Linked DNA regions of Homo sapiens. Changing the gene in region 2 together with the main gene of any one other region gives a genetic interaction. Each region holds a gene or a part of one and is shown on either strand. Other genes may lie near its edges. The genes, in order: GNA12, ARHGEF11 and GNA13.

Region 1 (7,898 bases), on a different chromosome or scaffold from region 2:
TTCATACAGGGATTTAGATTTCAGATTCTATGTTTCCAAATACTTTCTCCATCTACTGAGTTGGAAGAAACTAGAGACAGTCAAACTGCTATACTTTTATGCCTGCCTGGTTCTGAGGTCTGGGCAAGCAGCAACAATAAAATCAGGATCTTTAACAGAGAAGTTACAGGGCAGGCCCTGAGACAGCCAAATGCACTTGAACACAGACGCTCCCAGTGAGCTAAGCTGGGCACCTAGTCTTCAAAGTTCACGAAGTATCTGACCAGAGCTCTGACGCACCGAGAGGCTTGGAAAGAGGTAAAATGAAAAAGGGTGTTTTATCAAATTATTTTCTTCCCTTCACAATCCTAAAGGAGCTCTATTAAAATGAAACATTTCCATGAGAAGTATGTCAAGTGCGAATACTGGCCTGGAAGTCTGGAGGCCAGGATTCCAGCACAGAGACCCCAGGAAGGAGTCACTTCATCTCTAGGGCTGAGGCAGGAGTCCTTATGGGTAAGTGATACAAATGTACCCGATAGGTTTCTACGGGGCTTTGCTAAATTTAAAATCTCCCAGGCACCATAAAACCTAGTCTCCAGGCAGGTTTTCTGGCATGGCAAACTTCTCTCCGACTCTGCTTTGAGATGATTGTCCTCGCCTCTAACTTGGTTTCCCCAAAATGGGCTGGGGAAAAAGTGGTGAGGGGACAAGGAAAGGGTAGAGAGGTAGGGAGGGAGGGAGAAAGGAAGGGAGGAAGGAAGAAAAGAAAAAAGGAAGGAAGGTAGAAAGAAAGGAAGAAAAGGAAGGCGGGAAGGAAAGGAAGGAAAGGAAGGAAGGGAAGGGAGGAAGAAAAGAAAGGAAGGAAAGAAAAGAAGGAAAGGAAGGAAGGAAAAAGGGAGGGAGGACAAAGGACGCTATCTAGGTGTAAGCAAGGCTGCACTGTTCCCTCATCATCAGTTTCCTCCAGATCTTCCTTGAGGCCCTTTAACACAGGCTCACGGTACTGAGAGACTGGAACCCCGACTTTATCAACTCTATGGTTCTTTTATTTTTTTTCACTGCCACTCAGGCTGGAGTGCAGTGGCCCAAACATGGCTCACTGCAGCCTCAACCTCCCAGGCTCAACCAATTCTCCTACCTCAGCCGCTCAAGCAACTGGGACTACAGGTGCATTCCACCATGCCCAACTAATGTGTTCATTTTTGTGGCACTGAGGTCTTGCTGTGTTGCCCAGGTTGGTCTCAAACTTCTGGCCTCAAGTGATCCTCCTGCCTCAGCTTCCCAAAGTGCAGGGATTACAGGCACGAGCCATCACACCTGGCCGACTTCTACAGCTTCTTTCACAAATATGGCGAAGAGAAAAAAGGAAGCAAGAGACAGGAGAATCTGGAGATTCATTGCAATGCATGTCGAGTCACACAAAACAATTATGCCACAATGGAGGAATTCTGAACACTGGATATCTGGTGATAATGAGCTATTACTAATGTTTAGGTTTGCTAATGGTACTGCGGTTGTGTTTTTACATGGAGGCCTCATCTTTTAGCCACTCATATACATCCTAAAACGTTTCCTAATCCAACTACACAAAGTTGGATTTGCTTGGAGACCATGGGGAGGGCACAGGTGAATAGGATTGGCACAGAATTGATGACTGCTTTAGTTGGGCTGTAGGTACTTTACAGTCAATCTACTATTTTCTCTACTTTTGTATACATTTGAAGTTTTCGTATTAGAAAGTGTGGCTCACACCTGTAATCTCAGCACTTTGGGAGGCCCAGGTGGGAGGATGGCTTGAGACCAGCCTGGGCAAGAGAGTGAGAGCCTTTCTAAAAAAACAGAAAAGTAAAAAGAGACTCATGGCTGGTTCCCGTCCAGTCTCCACTGCTCTTCTTCTAAGCTCAGCCGGAGGGCACGGCCGGTTGGGCTCCTATCCCACAAATCTTCCAGTGGGAAATGGACAGATACCATTCTGCTAGGGCACATCCAGGAGGGGGCTAAGTGCCAAGCCCCCACTCCCCATCCCCAGAAGCTGGCCCGAGTTCCCACTCCCACGGTCCCCAGGCACCCTAGAGAGGGCAGAGGCAGACCGGGCGCCATGACTCATGCCTATAATCCCAGCACTTGAGGGAGACCAAGGCAGGAGGATCACTTGAGGCCAGGAGACTGAGACCAGCCTGGGCAACACAGCAAGACCCCATCTCTACAAAAAAAAACTTAAAAATTAGCTGGGCTGGTGGTGCGCGCCTGTAATCCCACTACTTCGGGAGGCTAAGGAGGGAGTAGGGCTTGAGCCTGGGAGGTCGAGGCTGCAGTGAGCTGTGAGGGCGCCACTGCACTCAAGCCTGGGAAACACAGCGAGACCCCATCTCAAAAAGGGCGAGACGGGGTGGGGCAGAGACGACGCCAGCAGGCCTCGGGGAATGGGTCGGGGGGGAGTGGGGTGCAGGCGGGGCTGGATCCAGCATCCTCGCCCCAGGGGTCCCCGCCCGCGGCGGCGGACCACGGAGGGGCCCGGGGCGGGGGTTAGCGCCCCGGCCCACCTGGGTGCAGGTGCTGGGCGGGGGGCGCGCGTCACCTTGAGGATGTTGTCGAAGATGGTGTCGCGGAACTCCAGCAGCGCCTTCTGGTCGAACTCGCGGCCGTGGATGATGCGCATCTGCTTGAGGAACGTGGACTTGCCGCTCTCGCCCGCGCCCAGCAGCAGGATCTTCACCAGGCGCCGGACCGCGCGCCGCTCGCGGGCCAGCAGCGCGTCGATGTCGCGGCTACGCCTCCGGGCCTCGCGCTCCGCGTCGCGCGCGCCGCTGCCCGCCCTGCGCTCGCGGGCCCCGCCGGCCTCGGCCGGCAGCAGGCAGCGGCTGAGGGTCCGCACCACCCCGGACATGGCCCCTCAGGCCGCGGCCGCGCCCCGCCGGCGCCCGGGGGCCATGGACGCTCCCGCCGGCGAGGGCGAGCCCGGGCCGAGGCACCGCCCCACGCCCCGCCGCTCGCCTCAGGCCGCGTCCGCCGCCGCCGCTGCAGTCGCTCCGAGGCCCGCACTCGTCGCCCGGCCGCCACTCGGGCCCGGCGGAGGGGCGGGCGGCGCCGCGTGAGGCCCGGCGGATTGGGCCGGCTGCCGTCCATCTGGCCGTGAGAGCCCTTCGATTGGCTCATCTCGCCAAGGGAGGCGGGCATCCCTTCCGGCCTCGGGGCGGGGTCGACGCCGAAAGAGGCGGGATCTTTGAGGTGAAGGCGCTTCTCATTGGACGCCCAGGCTGAGGTTCTTTCTTTCAGAATGAAAGGGAGGCGGGGTCGCCCGGGAGGCGGAGCGATCGTCCGCCATGGCCAATTATAATTGCTCTGAGTGGACATCAGACGTGCCCAACGGGCTTTGGATTGGGTGTTCGGGGGACGGGGCGTGACGAGAAGTGCCAGGTGTACAGAAAGATTCTCCCTTGGTTCCCAGATTGGGTCCGCCTGTGAGACCAGGACCTCGCGGAGTAGCCCAAAGGCTGGGAAATGCTGATAAGAGGTTCAGCTGCTCGTCGTATTCCCTCCGATGATCTTGTTTCTACACTATTTTCCTTCCAGAAACACTGGAGGGGGATGGGCCATAAATTTCAAACACATGCACCCTTTGAGAGTGGCATGGGCTTCTAGGAGGCTTTGCGAAAAGCTGACTAATCACTAAAATCACCAGAAGCTCCCCCAAAAGTCTTATGTCTCACAGTGATTGAGAGAGTGGGGTCTGGAGTTGCTGGGCCTGAGTTGGAATCTCCAGTCGACCAGTTACTAGGTGTACTAGTTGCATAACTTTTTTTAGCAGCTTTCCCCACCCCCCCCAACAAACCCTTTTGGATGTTCTTAGCTTCCGTTTCCTCATCTGTAAAACGGGGGTGTCATTGACGACATTGGTTATGGCTTGACATTGCTCAAATCGTCATGAAGATATAAACTGAGAACATGAACTTACCAAACACTTAGCACGTGAGCTAGCCCAAAATCAGCTCTTGATAGAGATCAGCTGATTACAGATTCTTGACTCTCCCAGATCTACTGAATCAGAACCTCCTAGAAGGAGCTCAGGTATCCCTTAAGATTAAAGGCGTGAGCCGCCGCGCCTGGCCCAGTGTGTAGTCTTTTATCTCTCGCCACCCCCCACCTTTTACCCTGAGTCCCCAAAGTCCAATCTCTGTGCGGTGTCTGTTAACTCTGCTGATTATTTCTTTTGCAGTGCCGAAGCTTTTTAGTTTAATTAAGTCCCATCTATTTATCTTTGTTTTTGTTGCATTTGCTTTTGGGTTCTTGGTCACAAAGTCTTTGCCTAAGCCAACGTCTAGAAGGATGTTTCCGATGTTATCTTCTAGAATGTTTATGGTTTCAGGTTGTAGATTTAAGTCTTTGATCTATCCTGAGTTGATTTTTGTATAACGTGAGAGACGAGGATCCAGTTTTATTCTTCTACATGTGGCTTGCCAATTATCTCAGCACCATTTGCTGAATAGGCTGTCCTTTCCCCACTTTGTTTTCATTTGCTTTGTTGAAGATCAGTTGGCTGTAAGTATTTGGCTTCATTTCTGGGTTCTCTATTATGTTCCATTGGTCTCTGTGCCTATTTTTATATTAGTACCATGCTGTTTTTGTGACGATAGCCTTATAGTATAGTTTGAAGTCAGGTAAAGTGATGCCTCCAGATTTGTTCTTTTTGCTTAGTCACAGATCTAAACTCCCCAGAAGGCTGGGCACGGTGACTCACAACTACAGTCCCAGCAGTTTGAGATGCTGAGGTGGGAGGATCACTTGAGCCCAGGAGGTCAAGGGTGCAGTGACCTATGATCGTGCCACTGTACTCCAGCCTGGACAACGGAGCAAGACCCTGTTTCAGAAACAAAACAAAACAAAAACCAACTCCCTGACAACCTTGAATGCACATAATATGTATTATTTGTCACTTGCTACAAATACTACAAATCATGCCATGAATTTGTATCACTTATGAGTCAAGATTTTGTAATCCTTGGAAAATGATTAGAAAGTCTTGCTTGTTTGTGGAAATGACCTCCCATAGGAGGCCAAATATGGCTGGGCACGGTGGCTCATGCCTGTAATCCCAGCACTTTGGGAGGCCAAGGCAGGCAGATTATCTAAGGTCAGGAGTTCAGGACCAGCCTGGCCAACATGGCGAAACCCTGTCGCTACTAAAAAATACAAAACTTGGTTGGGTGTGGTGGCGGGCGCCTGTAATCCCAGCTACTGGGGAGGCTGAGATAGGAGAATTGATTGAACCCGGGAGGCGGAGGTTGCAGTGAGCCGAGATCGCACCATTGCACTCCAGCCTGGGCAACAAGAGCAAAACTCTGCCTCAAAAAAACAAAAAAAAAAAAACAAAAACGGGAAGGCCAAATACTAGGTCTGGCATGGTAGCTCACACCATGTAATCCCAGCACTTTGTGAGGCTGTAATCCCAGCACTTTGTGAGGCTGAGGTGGGCAGATCACTTGAGGCCAGGAGTTTGAGACCAGCCTGGCCAACATGGTGAAACCTCCATCTCTATTAGAAATACCAAAATGAGCCAGGCATGGTGGTGAACGCCTGTAATTCCAGTTACTTAGGAGGCTGAGGCATGAGAATTGCTTGATCCCAGGAGGCTGAAGTGGCAGTGAGCTGCGATCACACCACTGCACTCCAGCCTGGGCAACAGAGCAGGACTCTGTCTCAAAAAGAAAAAAAAAAAAGAAAAAAAAAAAAAAGGCCAAACACTAGTATTGAAATAGAAGGGAGGAGAAATTGGAGAATCCAAAGAAAGCAATGTTTCTGAGACAGAAATAGGGAATTTTGAATCACTAAAGAGTGGACTAGAATTCAGAACAGGTTTTTGGCTCATCCAGTTCACACAGGGTTTATTCCTCATTCAGTTTTAAGAAATTAAGAAAAACTGATTCACAAAACAGTTTCAGCAAGTGCTCCAGACAGCACTCACAACTAACTTTAAATCCTTATAAATAAGCCAGGTATGGTGGGAGGCTGAGGTGGGAGGGTTGCTTGAGTCCAGGAGTTTGAGGCTGCAGTGAGCTATGATTGTACCACTGCACACCAGCCTGAACAACAGAACAAGACTCTGTCTCTATTTTTTTTAAATCTTTATAGCTTTATGCCTTGTGTTTATGTAATCATTAAACATTTTAAAGAGTTATTTACTTTTCTTTTTTTTTTTTTTTTTTTTTTTTTTTGTGATGCAGCTCTGTTGCCCAGGTTGGAGTGCAGTGGTGCAATCTCGGCTCACTACAACTTCTGCCTCCCAGGTCCAAGCTATTCTCCTGCCTCAGCTTCCTGAGTAGCTGGGATTACACGCACACACCACCATGCTTGGCCAATTTTTGTATTTTAAAAGAGGTGGGGTTTTATCACATTGGCCAGGCTGGTCTCAAACTCCTGACCTCAAGTGATCCACCTGCCTCGCCCTCCCAAAGTGCTGGGATTACAGGTGTGAGCCACCGGGCCTGGCCAAGAGTTACTTACATTTTTAAATGACACATTATGGCATTTTATGGGAGAAATTCTTCTGCTGTCGGCAATATTCGATTTGAGGATTTGACCAGGTCTCTGGACATCTCCACACGTGTCAATGGGCTAAGGTGCTTTAAATAAACAAGGTTATCTGCATAGTCCACAATAATCTCTTAATTATCCCTTCTGTTTGTACGGCATGCTAAAAGTTTTGAAGTACTTACAGGTGCATTATCTCATTTGCCCTCTCTACACTGCTGGGGAAAGGTGACTGCCTTACCAGTATCTGAATCCAGGTGGCTAAGCTCTCCTGGCAAGGGAAGTATGGTTAGTACACTGCAAACCCCGAACTGGAAGTCTGACACACAGCATTCTCTGTGTATAATAGGATGGAGAAAAACATGAGAACTTTGAAGTTTGGCTCCATCACCTACCAGCTGTGTGACCTTCAACAAGTCATACAGTATCTCTGAGACGTAGTTTCCTTGTCTGTAAAATCAGGATGAAAATAAAGCTGTACTACACCTTAAATAAGTTAATACAGATAAGGTCCTAGAACTGGACCTTAGCACATAACAGGCCCTCAGTAAATGGTCATATTGTTATTATTATCATCGTGGAGCTTTGGGAATCGGGTATTGCAAATTTAGAATAATAGTGGCAGGCTGGGGAAGAATCTATAAAGACAATACCTTGTATGGTATGATATTAAAAATTAAAACCTGGGAGGTGGTCTGGTCAAATAAATTAAGGTACATCCATATAAGTACAATAACATATTATTCCTGGCCAGGCATGGTGGCTCACGCCTGTAATCCTAGCACTTTGGGAGGCCGAGGTGGGCAGATCATCTGAGATCTGGAGTTTGAGACCAGCCAGGTCAACATGGTGAAACCTTCTCTCTACTAAAAATACAAAAATTAGCTGGGTGTGGAGGCACGTGCTACTTGGGAGACTGAGGCAGGAGAATCGCTTGAATCCAGGAGGCAGGGGTTACAGTGAACTGATATCGCACCACTGCACTCCAGCCTGGGCAACAGAGCGAGACTGTCTCAAAAAACAAACAAAATAACATATTATTCCTAAAAAGAATATGCAAGACTAAAATGTGTAAATAGATGGCCCACAGACATGCTTTCTTGGTCTACCAGCTGTTAAAAAAAATTGGTAGAGAGTAGGAGGAATAGACTGAATGTTCCTCCCAACTTGTATTCAGTTCCACCTCTGGAGCTAAGGAGAAGCCAGGAAGGGGGAGTCCGACAGCAGGGCCTGAAACCTTCATGTGACACGGTAAGCTCACCTGAAATCTCTAGGAAAGGAAGCAGCCACAGGGACTCTCACTCTCCAGTGGGCCAGCAGTGAGGGGATCAGGAACTCAGAGGCCTGGTATAGGGCCCAAGACGCTGGGATTCCCAATAGGAACAGGA
Region 2 (7,000 bases):
GGGAATAGAGCTGGAGGCATGGGCAGGAAAAGCAGTATGTGATCTTCTTGGGACTGTAGCTGGCACGTGGTAGGGGCAGGTGGGAGACCCAAGTCAGAGCCATTGGTATATCCCCCTGCTGCCACATGGCACATGACTTCACAGTTACCTTTTTGCTTGTCTTCATCCCGCACAAGAGAGTAAGGGCAAGGACTTTTTCTTATTTACCAATTCCCAGCACCTTAACACAATGTCTGGCACACAGTAGGCTCTCAAACACTTGAATGAATGAATGAATGAATGAATGAATGAATGGTGTCTCCTTAACAGAGCCTGGATCTTACAACCAGAAAAATGATCCATGAGGGACCCCTGACCTGGAGGATCAGCAAGGATAAGACCTTGGGTATGTGCCAGGGGACTGGGACTGAGCAGGAACCTGTAGTGGGTGGGCCTCCCTGGGCTCTTCTGTCTTTCCCAAGCATGGAAACATGACTGGAGGTGATAGCTCAGGACATGGGAAGGGAATAATCAGAGAGAGAAATGGGGTCACCAGACTCCCAGGACTTCCTAGAGCCTCCAAGAGCCTGTGGCCCTGCATTGTGCTCATGAGGGATGAGTAGGCACCAGGGAACACCTTCCCATGACCATACCCCTCCAGACCTCCACGTGCTGCTGCTGGAGGACCTCCTAGTGCTGCTACAGAAACAGGATGAGAAGCTATTGCTGAAGTGCCACAGCAAGACTGCTGTGGGCTCCTCAGACAGCAAGCAGACCTTCAGCCCCGTGCTCAAGCTCAATGCTGTGCTCATCCGCTCTGTGGCCACAGGTACCTGGGGAGATGGTCCAGGCTGGCCTGGGGCTCAGGGACCATGTCCAGCAAGTGCTGGGTGAGGCAGGGCCAGTCTGGAGCCTTTACAGGACCTACCTGTCCACCTGTGTTCCTTTCCTCCTGTCCTGACCCAGCCTAAGTGGTAGGACTGGCCCAAAGTGGGGTAGGATGAGGGTTAGGATGGGGACCAAGAGGAAGACAGACAACCTGGCACAGGGGTGGTCAGCAGTCCCCAAGCACAGTGCTGGATGGGATGTGCACACCCAGGATGGGTGAGAGTGTCTGAGCAGGATTGGGAAGAATGGGATTAGGCAGAATGAGTAGGACAAGCCTTTCTGCTACAGAGTGACTTGGGCAGAGCTTGGTTACAGAAGATGTTAGTACCCACGGTACAGAGCTGGGTCCAGTGGACAGGGACATTTCAATGAGAAGTGTAGTGTGTGTGAGAAAGGGCTCTGGAGCAAAATTCTCTGGATTCACTTTCTTCGTCTGTAAGATAGGAGTGATACCTACCCTACCTCTTGTGGGCATCAAAAGGGATGACGGGTATGAAAAAGTTTTATAAACCCTTGACCAGGCACTGTGGCTCATGCCTGTAATCCCAGCCCTTTGGGAGGCCGAGGCACTCAGATCACTTGAGGTCAGGAGTTCAAGACCAGCCTGGCCAACATGGTGAAACCCTATCTCTACTAAAAATACAAAAATTAGCCAGGCATGTTGGCAGGCACCTGTAATTCCAGTTACTCGGGAGGCTGAGGCAGGAGAATCACTTGAACCCGGGAGGCGCAGGTTGCAGTGAGCCAAGATGGCACCACTACATTCTAGCCTGGGTGACAGAGCAAGAATCCGTTTCAAAAAAAAAAAAAGTTTTATAACTCCTAAGCACCATACACCTATCAGCCATCACTGTTATTAGAGCAGGAGAGGAATGGGGGTGGCTGTGGAAGATGACATTAGGGGTCCTGGAATTTCCTCTGTCCCTTATGTAAGTGGGTTCCAAGTGGTCCTGAAGATCCACATCTGTCTCGTGCTGCACTCTCCATCTGCGTTGAGGGTCAGGGCTTTGAGTCCCACTCTGTCACCCTGGCCCAGGCTGCAGTCACACCTGCCATCCCTAGTACAGACCCTTCTACCTTCCTTTCCTCACACAGATAAACGGGCCTTCTTCATCATCTGCACCTCCAAGCTGGGCCCACCCCAGATCTATGAGCTGGTTGCATTGACGTCATCAGACAAGAACACGTGAGAATTGATTGAGGGGTTACCCGTAACTGTGGTCCCTTTCGGACCAGGGTGGTGTTTATGAGGACAGTGGGTAGCAAGGCCAGGTTTGGGCCCCAAAGCAGTCCCTGGACAAGGGGTTGGGAAGGAAGTGGGAGGTAGGACAGAAGTAGAGAAGCTGGGAGGGGTCATCACCCCCGACCTGGTCACCAGGCCCGCTTCTGGGAGAATGAGCTTCTGGCAGTCTTCCAGCCGCTGCTGCTGCTTCTTTCCTTCCTGCCCTACTCCCTTCACCATTAGGCAGATTAGATTCATGCATCCTTCTCAGGCATTTGCCTCCCACCCAGCCCATGTTCTTTGACAGCAGCTGCCAGAGGTGGCATGGTACAGTGGAAGGAGACAGGTTGAGTCAGACTGTTTCCCAACTCCAGGGTTTTCATCTGTAAAATGTGGCTAATGCTACCTGTTAGAGGATTACTTTAGAGGGAAAACATAGAATGCTTTGCACAGAGTGTAACAGAGGGTTGGTGTCCAGGATTTGGTAGCTGCAAGTAATATAACCGCAAGGGAGCAGCCAGGGAGGACTGTACAGGGAGGTGGGCACCTGCCAGGCAGAGGGTTCTTAGGGCCTGGAAGCCCTGTTCCAGTGGGCTCAGTACGGGGTGGTGCGTGCTGCTATCTTGCTCTCACTACAGTCCTCTCTGTTCCTGCCGAGCAACAGATGGATGGAGCTCTTAGAAGAGGCCGTGCGGAATGCCACCAGGCACCCCGGAGCTGCCCCAATGCCCGTCCATCCTCCACCCCCAGGTCCCCGGGAGCCAGCCCAGCAGGGCCCCACACCCAGCAGGTGCAGTGCTTAGCCCTCCAGACCCTGCACTCTCTCCACTCCAAACCTCCTGTTTCCTGCTGCTTTTAAGCCCTTCGCCCCCGTGGGTAGACAGCCACAACAGGGAAATGCTAGCAGGGAGCAGACAGCTCCAAGTGCTGGCAGATGGAGGAACATGCCCCCTGTCCCTGCTTCTTGTCCCTGTCTGCTCCCCCACAGCCTGCCACCTGGCTATAATAGAGCTGAGCCTGAAGAAGGGTGAGGGGGATGTAGAGCAAGGGACCAGAGAAGCTCAGCTAGCAGCCCCCCTCCTCTCTGGGTTGCCAAGCAGACCAGCCAGGTGAAGAGGCCCACACCGTCCTTCTCGGATCCTACTCCATTGCCCATTCTAATGCATGAGTCCAGGGTGGAATCTCATGGGATCTCATCCTGTGTTGGTTTCCTTCCTCAGGGTAGAACTGGATGACTCAGACGTGTTCCATGGTGAACCTGAACCTGAGGAGCTGCCTGGAGGTAAGGGCCCTGAACTGTCCTGTGGGAGCCAGCCCAGGCCTTTTTCTGTAGGCACAGGTTGGGTGTGAGTATGGGGGCGATGGGAGAGTCCATCAGGGCCCGGGGTGTGAGGTTTTGATAAAGAGTAGAGAAGAAACAGGGCGGGAGGAAGAGTCTGGAAGAGGAAGGAGAGCAGACTGAACAGACTTAAGAAAGGGTGAACTCGCTCACCTGACCAGAAATTCCCACCCAGCCTCTCTGGGTGACGGCATCAGCTGTGGAAGAAGACGAGCAGTCTGGCGGGATCCACGGGCCCTGCATCCTCCAGCCAGGGGTTACTGTTGGGGAGGGAGATACATGCTGCAACAATGAGAATGGAAAACATGGCGGGGCTGGGGAGCTCAAAGGGCTTAAGATGCAGTTACTGTGATGGGATTGGTAGAGGGGACAGCATTCTCATTGAGAGCTTGCGTGAGAAATAACCTGGGGTCTTGGGTTTCAGGAGAAATCTCGGGTTTCCTGGCTGGGTCCCTGTTGTTTCCTTCTGCTTAGAATGCTTTTCCTCCTAACGCCACACCTCCTTCACGTCTTCATTCCAGTGTCCTCTTGGCCCAATCTGTTTAATACTGTAGCCAGCACTGTCCAGCCCCTAGCCCCATGCCCTGTTGTTGTTTTCTTCTTTCCGGTGGAAGTTACTGCCTTCTAACAAACTACATAATTGACTGAAGTGTCTTATTTTTGTATGTCCCTCCCCTAGAATGTAAGCTCAACATAGGCAGGGATCTTTTTGTTTTGCTTACTGTTGTATGCCAAGAGCCTGGGACAGTGCTGGCCATGGGAAGTTCTCAGTAAACAACTGTAGAATAAGTCAGTGTTCCCAGCCCCTTGGCTCCAAAGCTGCCCATAGGCTCTCCCATACGTGCCCTCTCCCTTTCCCTGCCTTACAATCTTCTCTCATCCGAAACAGGCACTGGGTCCCAGCAGAGGGTCCAAGGGAAGCACCAGGTCCTGCTAGAGGACCCTGAGCAGGAGGGCAGTGCAGAGGAAGAGGAACTGGGTGTCCTGCCTTGCCCTTCCACATCCCTGGATGGAGAGAACAGGGGCATCAGGACAAGGAACCCCATCCACTTGGCCTTCCCAGGCCCTCTGTTCATGGAAGGGCTCGCTGACTCCGCTCTGGAAGATGGTGAGTGCTTCAAGGCCCTGCCGTCAGCCCCTGGTCCCCAGTCGCACACCCAGTGTGAACTGGCAGGCGCCTGCACCCTCCACCTTCCCGAAGGCTCTTCCTGGTGTGCTTGAGGAGAGATGGATGCGGAGACAGATGTCATTCCCCACCCAACCCCCACCAGCTAGTTGGCCAGAGCCCTCCAGCTTCACCTGTGCCTGAGGTCACCACCTTGGGGTCAGTGGGGCAGTACAACGATCCTTCTGGCGTGGTGTGCAGTCCCATGCTGGGAAGACATCACCCTGTTTCCCCTCCAGTGGAGAACCTGCGACATCTGATCCTGTGGAGCCTGCTGCCAGGTCACACCATGGAAACTCAGGCTGCCCAGGAGCCCGAGGACGACCTGACACCCACACCTTCTGTCATCAGCGTCACCTCTCACCCCTGGGACCCAGGCTCCCCAGGGCAAGCACCCCCTGGGGGTGAAGGGGACAACACCCAGCTTGCAGGGCTGGAGGGGGAACGGCCAGAGCAGGAAGACATGGGTCTCTGTTCTCTGGAACACCTACCCCCAAGGACCAGAAATTCTGGGATATGGGAGTCTCCAGAACTGGACAGGAATCTGGCTGAAGATGCTTCAAGCACAGAGGCAGCAGGAGGTTACAAAGTTGTGAGAAAAGGTAAAATAAATGGGAGTGTCCAGTGGGGAGACAAGCACCCTTGCTAGGTGAGATAAGTCTTCCGAACAGCTGCTTCCTTCCCTATACTCCCCCTGGGTACCGTGTGAGCAGAGACCTACGCTGGGTCCTGGAAGAAGGAGACAACGCCGATATCAGGCAGGCTTTGGAGTTGGACATTCGAGATTCAGAGCTTAGCTCTGCCACTTAATATCTGTGTGGCTTTAGACAAAATTCTGAATCATCTCTGAACTTTGTTTTATAGCACATAAGGACATTTCTTTCTGCCTGGCACAAACCAACTACCAGTACCAGTCTCTGTTAGTGCTCCTCACTGATCTCCTGTTCCCAGGGAAAAGAGCCACTCTTCTCAGGAGCCTCAGGCCGGGAAAGACAGGGCAGGTGCATGCAGCCCCTCACGCCAGGCAACAGCTCCAAGGGCAGTAGAGGTGGCAGCTGGGACTGGAAGGGGTGGAGGACAAAGCTGGGAAGACATTTGGCGAGTGAGGGATGTGGGGAGTGAACAAGGTGGCAGGGAGGGCACCCCGGGTTGGGAAACACCATGGACGGCCTTGAGACAAGAAAAGCCAAGACAAGCTCACAGGGAGGCCAATAGATGAGCCCAGGGAGGAAGGTCCCCACCCCGGGAAGAGTGGGCTGGTCTGAGAGGGTGGCAAGAAAAGTAGAACAAAGCCTGGGGCACACATGGGATGGGGTTCCACGCTAGTGGGCCTGCCCTCCCCTGGGATTCCACTCTGCCTCCCTTCCAGCAGCATTTTTCATTCCATCTGCCCAAGGGCCACCTGTCTCCTGGGTTTCTGGGAACTGACCTTCCTTCTCTGTCTCTCGGTGAATTGGTGGAAAGTTCTCTGCACTGCCTGGGATGTCATCGTGTATGATCTTGTGTTCACCTTGTTCTTCCCATTTTCTCCTCCCCCTGTCCCCACCTCCTGCCCTCTCTCCTTCCTGTTCTCTCTCCCTTCCCTTTCCTTGTGTTTTGGTCTCTCCTCTTCCTGGTGGTGGTGGTGTCGGTGCAGCTGAGGTGGCAGGCAGCAAGGTTGTCCCTGCACTACCAGAGAGTGGCCAGTCAGAGCCTGGGCCACCTGAAGTGGAAGGCGGAACAAAGGCTACGGGTAATAACTTTCTCCTTGGAGCTAAAGACAGGCCAAGACTGGAGTGTGGAACCTGTGAGGGCAGAGTCGGACCCCTGCCCATGGTCACACACACACCCACAAGCTCCCTCAGCTGCCTGGAATGGGGAGGAGGAAGATCTGGCTCTAAAGACGGGGAGATCTGGTTCTAAAGGCTGGCTGTCCATCCAGCCTTAAGAAGCCACCTGTCCAGGCTCCTGTTCAGAATGGCAGGGATAAATGCCTGTGTGCAATTGTGGGAGGGGCAGGGAAGCCTGGCCTGGGGGTGGGGACCTAGTGTCCTTCACCTGATATGCAAGCAGCCACTTCCCCACCTCAGCCGCCGCTCCAGTGTCACTGTGGAAATCGGCTGAAAGAGCCTCCCAGATTCCGCGGTGGTTCTCTGTGCTTCCTGCCTGTCAGGAACCCTCCACGTCCTTCCTCCAGCTCTCTCTGACACCCCTTGGTTGGGTCAAGGGACCTCCAGAGGATCGTGGCATGGATGGAAGAGGGGCAGGGCAGGGCTGTAGTTCATCCAGAGCTGGAGTCAGGCAGGGCAAGAGGGCTGCTGCCTGCTCCTTTCAGAAGAGCCTGAAACCAGCTCACAATCTGTTTACTCAAGGAGGGGGAGCCACTCCAATTTCCCCAAATGAAACACTGCAGCTCTGCCACTTCTCC
Region 3 (7,220 bases), on a different chromosome or scaffold from region 2:
CATCTGCTTTCTGTTTTATGGATTTGCCTATTCTGGACATTTCACATAAGTGGAACCTTATAATATGGGGCCTTTTGTTTCACTTTGCCTAGTATTTTCAAAGTTCATTCATGTTGCAGCATGTGTCAGCACCTCATTCCTTTTTATGGCTGAATAATTGCAATGTATAGATATGCGACATTTGGTTTATCCATTCGTTCATCGATGGACATTTGGACACCTTTTGGCTATTCCTTTTTTGTTGTTGTGGGTTTTTTTAACTTTTATTTTAGGTTTAGGAGTACATATGCAGGTTTGTTATACAGGTAAACTGCTCATCTCGAGTTTGGTGTACAGATTATTTAGTCACTCAGGTAATAAGTATAGTATGCGATATGTTTTTTGTTTTGTTTCGTTTTGTTTTGGTTTTTGAGACGGAGTTTCGCTCTTGCTGCCCAGGCTAGAGTGCAATGGCGTGATCTCGGCTCACTGCAACCTCCGCCTCCCAGGTTCAAACAATTCTCCTGTCTCAGCCTCCTGAGGAGCTGGGATTACAGGCGCGTGCCACCATGCCCGCCTAATTTTTGGTATTTTTAGTAGAGATGGGGTTTCATCATATTGGCCAGGCTGGTCTCAAACTCCTGACCTCAGGTGATCCGCCCGCCTCGGCCTCCGAAAAGTGCTGGGATTACAGGTGTGAACCACTGCACCCGACCAGGTATTTTTTTTTTAATCCTCTCCCTCCTCCTGCCTTCCACCCTCAAGTAGGTCCCAGTGTCTGTTGTTCCCCTCTTTGTGTCTTGTTTTTTAGAGATAGGGTCTCACTCTGTCACACAGACTTAGAGTTCAGTGGCATGATCATAGCTCACTGTAGCCTTGAGCTCCTGCATTTAAGCAATCTTCCTGCCTCAGCCTCCTGAGTAGCTAGAACTACAGCTATGTGCCACCACATCTGGCTATTTTTTTTTTTTTTTTTTTGAGACAGGGTCTGGCTCTGTTCCCCAGGCTGAAGTGCAGTGGTGCAATTTTGGCTCACTGCAGCCTCCGCTTCCTGGACTCAAGCGATTTTCCCACCTCAGCCTTCTGAGTAGCTAGGACCACAGGTGCACACCGCCTTCCCCTACTTTTTATATATTTTTTTGTAGACAGGGTTTCACCATGTTGCCCAGGCTGCTCTTAAACTCCTGGCTTAAGTGTTTGGATTACAGGCGTGAACCACTGCAGCCGGCTAATCTCTTGGCTACCATAAATGGTGCTGCCATGAACGTGGGTATACAAGTTTTTGTTTGAACACTGTTTTCAATTCTTTTTAGTATTTTGGGGGGTATACCCAGGATAAAATTACTGGGTCATATGGCAATTCTATGTTCACCTCTTTGAGAAACCACCAAGTCTCTAACTCATTTTTATGTTTACAATTTACAAGGTGTCTTGATCACCAGTTAGAAGAAGCTGGACAGCTGCAGCCAAACCCCTAGGTTGGACCCAAAGAGGTCTCTTTTTCTTTCTTTCATTCATTCATTCTTTTTCTTTTTTTTTTTTTTTGAGACAGAGAGTCTCACTCTGTCACCCATGCTGGAGTGCAGTGGCCTGATCTCGGCTCACTGCAACCTCCGCCTCCCACGTTCAAGCAATTCTCCTGCCTCAGCCTCCCGAGTAGCTGGGACTACAAGCGCCCACCACCACTCCCCACTAATTTTTGTATTTTTAGTAGAGATGAAGTTTCGCCATGTTGGCCAGGCTGGTCTCGAACTCCTGGGCTCAAGTCATCTGCCTGCATCAGCCTCCCAAAGTGCTGGGATTACAGGCATGAGCTACTGTGCCCGGCCTTCTTTTTCTTTCTTTCTTCCTTCCTCCTTCCTCCTTCTTCTTCTTCTTCCTTCATTTGACTTTCAGGTCAAAGAGGTCTCTTTTTAAAAACTACACTGACTAGAACAGCCAGACTTGATGTGAGCCAAGTTTGTTCCAAGGCAAGCTTACACGCAGGGCTTTAAACAGCTTTCTCTGCTGCTCTGCATGTCACGACATGAACTGGCTGGGCAGGAATACCTTCCTGCCTCCTAGGCATTCTTGGTTTTCCATTATATTACACACACTTCTGAAAAAAGATGTTAACTACCTAACTTACAAGTTTCTCTCCTCTTTGTTGGAGTTCAGATTAGCACCTGGGGTCAATGCAGAAACAGTGCTCGGGGACAGGTTCTATGCCCCAATCCTGGGAGAGGCGAGTCCTTGCATGGTTAGAGAACAGGGCCTCCCAAACACTAGATGAGATGATGGAAAAATTCTCCATCCAGGGCAGGCTTTTACCATATATTTTGCCTGACAGCACTGCTCAGTGATTCTGACTCTTATCAATCCACAGATATTGGAGGTGAGCCTACTCTACTTGTATATTGTAGGTTGTCCACCCTCTGGGCTTGCCAGAGCCACAGGAGATAATCCTACTACAGGCATTGTTTACTGCAGCCAATCTACTGAGTCGAGGCTTCTCGGTCATTAACCCAACCCCAGGGAGTAACTGATTAGTACCGATTTTAAAATTTAAACCTGTTCGGGAGTTTCTTGGAATGCTGACCTCTTACCTCCGCTCCCTTATACATACGAAGTTTCTGAGCCACAGGAGCCCAAAGCTACGTTGCATTGCCCAAAACAGGGACAGACCAAAGTGGCTTTTTCCACTTGAAACTAAATACTAAGAATGAAGAGGTCGGCTCTCGGGGGTCCCGGTTAAGCAGTTTCTCTGCCAACCCACAGCTGTCACTTGTGGCTTGTCTCCTGGCCTCCTTTCAGGTGTCCTGGCCTGAATCTGCTGTTAGGACAGAAAAAAAGTCCCTGGACGGGTCATATCCTCTGTAATCTGGCAGGAAAGCTAAAATTTGCGTGCTCCCATTCCTCGTTGTGTTTGTGTATCTGCTTCCTTGTTGGGAAGAGCCTACATCACAGTGTCCGGTGTAGGGGATTTTCACCATGACCTCACCCTCCTGCTGCCACTCGCTAATTCCGGCGCGGCCAAGCGTCCCTGAAGTCACATCACAGCCCAGGTGGAATGCACGAGTGAGCCATTAAATGCCCCTGGTAGCACGTCTCAAGTGAACATCAACTCCAGTTCTTTCCCCTCACAGAGAGCCCTGGTAGGGGTCTGAAAATGCCAGAAAGAGCTGGAAGTGGGGGTGGACGACGTCTGGTTACCGTTCTGGGATTCGGAGACTAGAAGGTCAAGGGAGTCACTTTAAGAAAACACACCAGGCCTGGGCCTGGTGGCTCTGTCTGGAATCCCCGCACTGTGGGAGGCCGAGGCTAGAGGATCGCTTGAGCTCAGGAGTTCGAGACCAGCCTGGGCAACATAGGGGGGAGCCCCTGTATCTAAAAATAAATACAAAAAATTTAGCCGGGTATGATGGCACACGCCTGTACTCCCAGCTACTCGGGAGGCTGAGGCGGAAGGATGGCTTGAACCTGGGAGGCGGAGGTTGCAGTGAGTCGAGATCGAGCCAATGCACTCCAGCCTGGGCGACAGGGTGAGACTCCGTCTCAAAAGAGAAAAAATAAAATGAAATAAAGAAAATGCACCAAAGGCCTGCCAGGCTCACGCCGGCTGTTCTGTTCGAATAACTTTCGAGTCCGTGGCCTCGAAATGGGTCGGGTGGGCGGTGACAGCGGGCAGCGGGCGCGCAACGCGGGAGAAAGGGAGGCTAAGTGGGAGCCCAAAGAACCGCGTCCGGGACCTGGTCTCCGGCCTCCCGGCCTTGGGGAAGGAGCCCTTCTGCCCACAAGTGGGCTCAGGCCATGAAAGGGAAACAGAAAGTCGGGCTCCCCAGCCTGGCCCACGTGACCGCGGTTCCTCAGCCCTCCCCGCGCGCCCGGCCGCGGCTGCGGGCGCGGGCACCCGAGCGACACATCGAGCTCGTGACTCGCCGCCCAGGGCGGGAGGCGGAGAAGCGGCCGCGGCGTGCGAGCGCGCCTCCGGGAGGCAGCGGGAGCGCGCACGCTCCGGGGCCACCGCCCCTCCGGGGCCGGGCCCGCCCTCCTTCCCTCCCTCCCTCCCCCGCTGTCCTGGCCCGCCCTGCCCGGCCCGCCCTGCGAGTCAGTTCGCTGGTTCCCTCCCTCCCTGGGCGCGCTCGGGCCGCCGCCGCGCTCCCCGCCCTCGAGCCTCGGTGCCGGAGCCGCCCGCCGCCGGAGGAGGAGGTGGAGGGAGCCGGAGGGGCCCGCCGAGGCGGCGGCGGCGGCGGCAAGATGGCGGACTTCCTGCCGTCGCGGTCCGTGCTGTCCGTGTGCTTCCCCGGCTGCCTGCTGACGAGTGGCGAGGCCGAGCAGCAACGCAAGTCCAAGGAGATCGACAAATGCCTGTCTCGGGAAAAGACCTATGTGAAGCGGCTGGTGAAGATCCTGCTGCTGGGCGCGGGCGAGAGCGGCAAGTCCACCTTCCTGAAGCAGATGCGGATCATCCACGGGCAGGACTTCGACCAGCGCGCGCGCGAGGAGTTCCGCCCCACCATCTACAGCAACGTGATCAAAGGTGCCGGGCCGGGAATGGGGGCCGGGGGTTAAGGGCAGGGGGGCTGGGGCGGCGGCGGGTGCGGGGCGGGGCACCGCCCTGGTCCGCTGTGTCGCTGGCGAAGGAACGGGCCCGGCGGGCGGGCTGGCGGGAAGGGGGCGCGCCCCGGCAACTGGCCCTGCCCGCCCGGGGTGCCCTCGCGCCCCAGGGCGAGAGGATGCTCGGGGTCGCCCTGCTCTCCCGCTTGTCTCCCCGGTGGGCGTCACGGCCATTCCCCCACCCCCCACCGCGTCCTGGTCTCTCCCCCTGCGAGAGGGAAGTGGGGCGAGCTGGGTGCTGCCTCGGGGTGTGGGCAGACCTCTCCTGTCCTCCCCGCTGCGGATGAGGCAGGAACACCAATAGCAGCCCTAGCCGCTTCACCCCCATCCCCTGCTCGGGCGATGTGGGCCGAACCTCGCTACCCTGGCTGGGTGACCCGAGTCACATGGGGTCGCATGCGCTCCCAACTCCCTGCTTCCTTGGCCGTCTCCTAAGCAAGCGAGTTCTGGAACCGTCGCAATAAGGGAACTTTTTGCCCGAGACTTCTTGTCAAGGGCGTAGGGTGACAGCCTCCTTTTGGGCGAGAATATGAAACTTGAGGAGTGTCAGGTTGACTGTACTGGAATCAGGAGAGAGTGGACCCATACAGTTAGCATGAAAATGTAGCATCTGTGCTTTTTCGCCCCAGTGTCACGGTCAGGTAGGATGTTTGCGTGTGATTTCTGTGCAACACGTTCCACTCTCCTTTTCGCTAAGTAACTGGGGGCTGGCAGGAAGGGAGTACCACTGCTTCTATTTAGATGAAATGTAGTAGTAAGAAGACTGGCCTAAAAGTCATGTGGATCCTGTACAGATGGAGACAATGAATGAGTGTTGAGTTAGATAATTGGCTCGGCTCTTTATTGACAGTAGTTTTAAAATTAAACTTTGTTCTTAAGTGAAAAATAAACAAGTTGTTTATTTCTGGGCATTCAAAGAAATCGAAAAGATGGTTTTTATTTTGTCATTTGAAAGATAATTAACACTCGTTTCTGCGTGTCAAGTATGTTCTATAGAAAAGGCATTTTGGCAAAATTTAGGTGCAGCGCCTGGTAACTCAGGTGCATCTGGATTTTATTTTATCTGGGGAGCAGTTTAGGAGTTTGCTACAGATTGCAGGTCTTTTTAAGTGGGATTTTTGTTCAGGAAGTACATAAGGGACTTCTGCATGTCACCCCCCCGCCCCCTCCCCGCCAACCGCCTCCCGAGCTTCCAGCGTTTGGGTAAAGGAAAACTGCCTGAAGAGCCAGGCATTATGGAGTAATGAATTAGAGAGAATCACTAGACCACAGCCAGCTCTAGCCCTAGTACCTCTGCAGTTAAACTATAAAGAACAGTTGTATTTATCCTGCTGTAATGTTTAGCTCAAAACTAATTAAGGTCTCTTTCAAGGCTGCAGACTCTGCCTTGACAGTCCTTAATTGAAGGTACCTTTGTAACCTGATGCAGCTGAACTTAAGGAATTATGTTAATGAATAGCATCAACATGTTAACTGACTGTGAGCCTGGTAAACACCTCGTTCTTAATGTACACTGAGTTGTAAGTGTGATCTACGTTGAGCATTGATTATGAGATGATGTAAGTCATCAGGAATCTAGTTTTTTCAAGTTGACATGAAATTTGACAGTAGAACAGTTTCTCAGGCTGGGCGTGGTGGCTCACTCCTGCAATCCCAGCACTTTGGGAGGCCAAAGTGGGAGGATGGCTTGAGCCCAGGAGTTCCAGACCAGCTGGGCTACATAGCCAGACCTCGTCTCTATTAAAAAACAAAAACAAAAAAACCCCACCCGTTTTTCAGTTATTCAGATGACTTCCTAATAGCCAAGTGACTGTTCAGATTGATCAAACTTAATAAAAGTAATAGATCAGTGATAGGAAAAATGAGTTTCAACTAACCTCTGTGAGTTGGAGTCCGACTTTGTATTATTTTGCAGTTGATCTTCCTCCCTTTTAGGGAAATTGAAGGCCATCCTGTAACTTAAACTGGATTGAAACTTGGGCTGGAAGAAGTTTTTAAATTTTGAATGTGTTGCTAGAAGACTCAATGTTGGGTTAGGGTGCCGAAGCAACAAACAGAACATGGAGCTATAGTAGTTGGTTCTTAGTGTTTCATAAATGAACATCTTTTAGGCTCATAAAACCTTGGTTGTGTCTGTTTTCTTCTGAGCTTGGACATTGTTGGTCTGTGCAGCATAACTTCTTTTTCTTTCTTGAGTTAGATTGTTTTTTGACTACCTTCTATCCTAGAAGTTATTTTATAAATTGGAACATGTTAAAAATCCTTCAGAGAGAGGAATTGTGCTAATAGTATTTGCTTTTCAAGGCTCTAATTTTAAGACAGTGAGCAACTGTTATTTTTTTTAACCTCTGAGAAGTTACATTTGTTTTCGATGTTGGTCTTCATTTTTGAAGAAGGTTTGTCTAGGTTAATTCAGAAGTATAAGGAAATAATACTGGAATAAAAACTTATGATAATATGTAATGACTCCTCTCCATACATTTTTTTTCTTCTTTTTAAACAAAGGTATGAGGGTGCTGGTTGATGCTCGAGAGAAGCTTCATATTCCCTGGGGAGACAACTCAAACCAACAACATGGAGATAAGATGATGTCGTTTGATACCCGGGCCCCCATGGCAGCCCAAGGAATGGTGGAAACAAGGGTT

The links.
Region 1: of ARHGEF11 (region 2) and GNA12, changing one enhances a phenotype caused by changing the other (phenotypic enhancement), as found in Homo sapiens cells (one study listed by BioGRID).
Region 3: of ARHGEF11 (region 2) and GNA13, changing one enhances a phenotype caused by changing the other (phenotypic enhancement), as found in Homo sapiens cells (one study listed by BioGRID).

The regions. Positions count from the first base shown.
Region 1 is NC_000007.14:2,841,293-2,849,190, forward strand, and holds the start of GNA12 (guanine nucleotide-binding protein subunit alpha-12), read right to left. Parts: upstream 3,017-7,898; 5' UTR 2,870-3,016; coding exon 2,561-2,869; intron 1-2,560. UniProt on the Homo sapiens protein: Guanine nucleotide-binding proteins (G proteins) are involved as modulators or transducers in various transmembrane signaling systems. Activates effector molecule RhoA by binding and activating RhoGEFs (ARHGEF12/LARG).
Region 2 is NC_000001.11:156,937,743-156,944,742, reverse strand, and holds part of ARHGEF11 (rho guanine nucleotide exchange factor 11), read left to right. Parts: intron 1-309; coding exon 310-385; intron 386-640; coding exon 641-808; intron 809-1,962; coding exon 1,963-2,053; intron 2,054-2,753; coding exon 2,754-2,879; intron 2,880-3,309; coding exon 3,310-3,371; intron 3,372-3,669; exon of another isoform or gene 3,670-3,685; coding exon of another isoform or gene 3,686-3,688; intron 3,689-4,317; coding exon 4,318-4,536; intron 4,537-4,832; coding exon 4,833-5,195; intron 5,196-6,229; coding exon 6,230-6,325; intron 6,326-7,000. UniProt on the Homo sapiens protein: May play a role in the regulation of RhoA GTPase by guanine nucleotide-binding alpha-12 (GNA12) and alpha-13 (GNA13). Acts as guanine nucleotide exchange factor (GEF) for RhoA GTPase and may act as GTPase-activating protein (GAP) for GNA12 and GNA13.
Region 3 is NC_000017.11:65,053,589-65,060,808, reverse strand, and holds the start of GNA13 (guanine nucleotide-binding protein subunit alpha-13), read left to right. Parts: upstream 1-4,068; 5' UTR 4,069-4,215; coding exon 4,216-4,498; intron 4,499-5,034; exon of another isoform or gene 5,035-5,216; intron 5,217-7,080; coding exon 7,081-7,220. UniProt on the Homo sapiens protein: Guanine nucleotide-binding proteins (G proteins) are involved as modulators or transducers in various transmembrane signaling systems.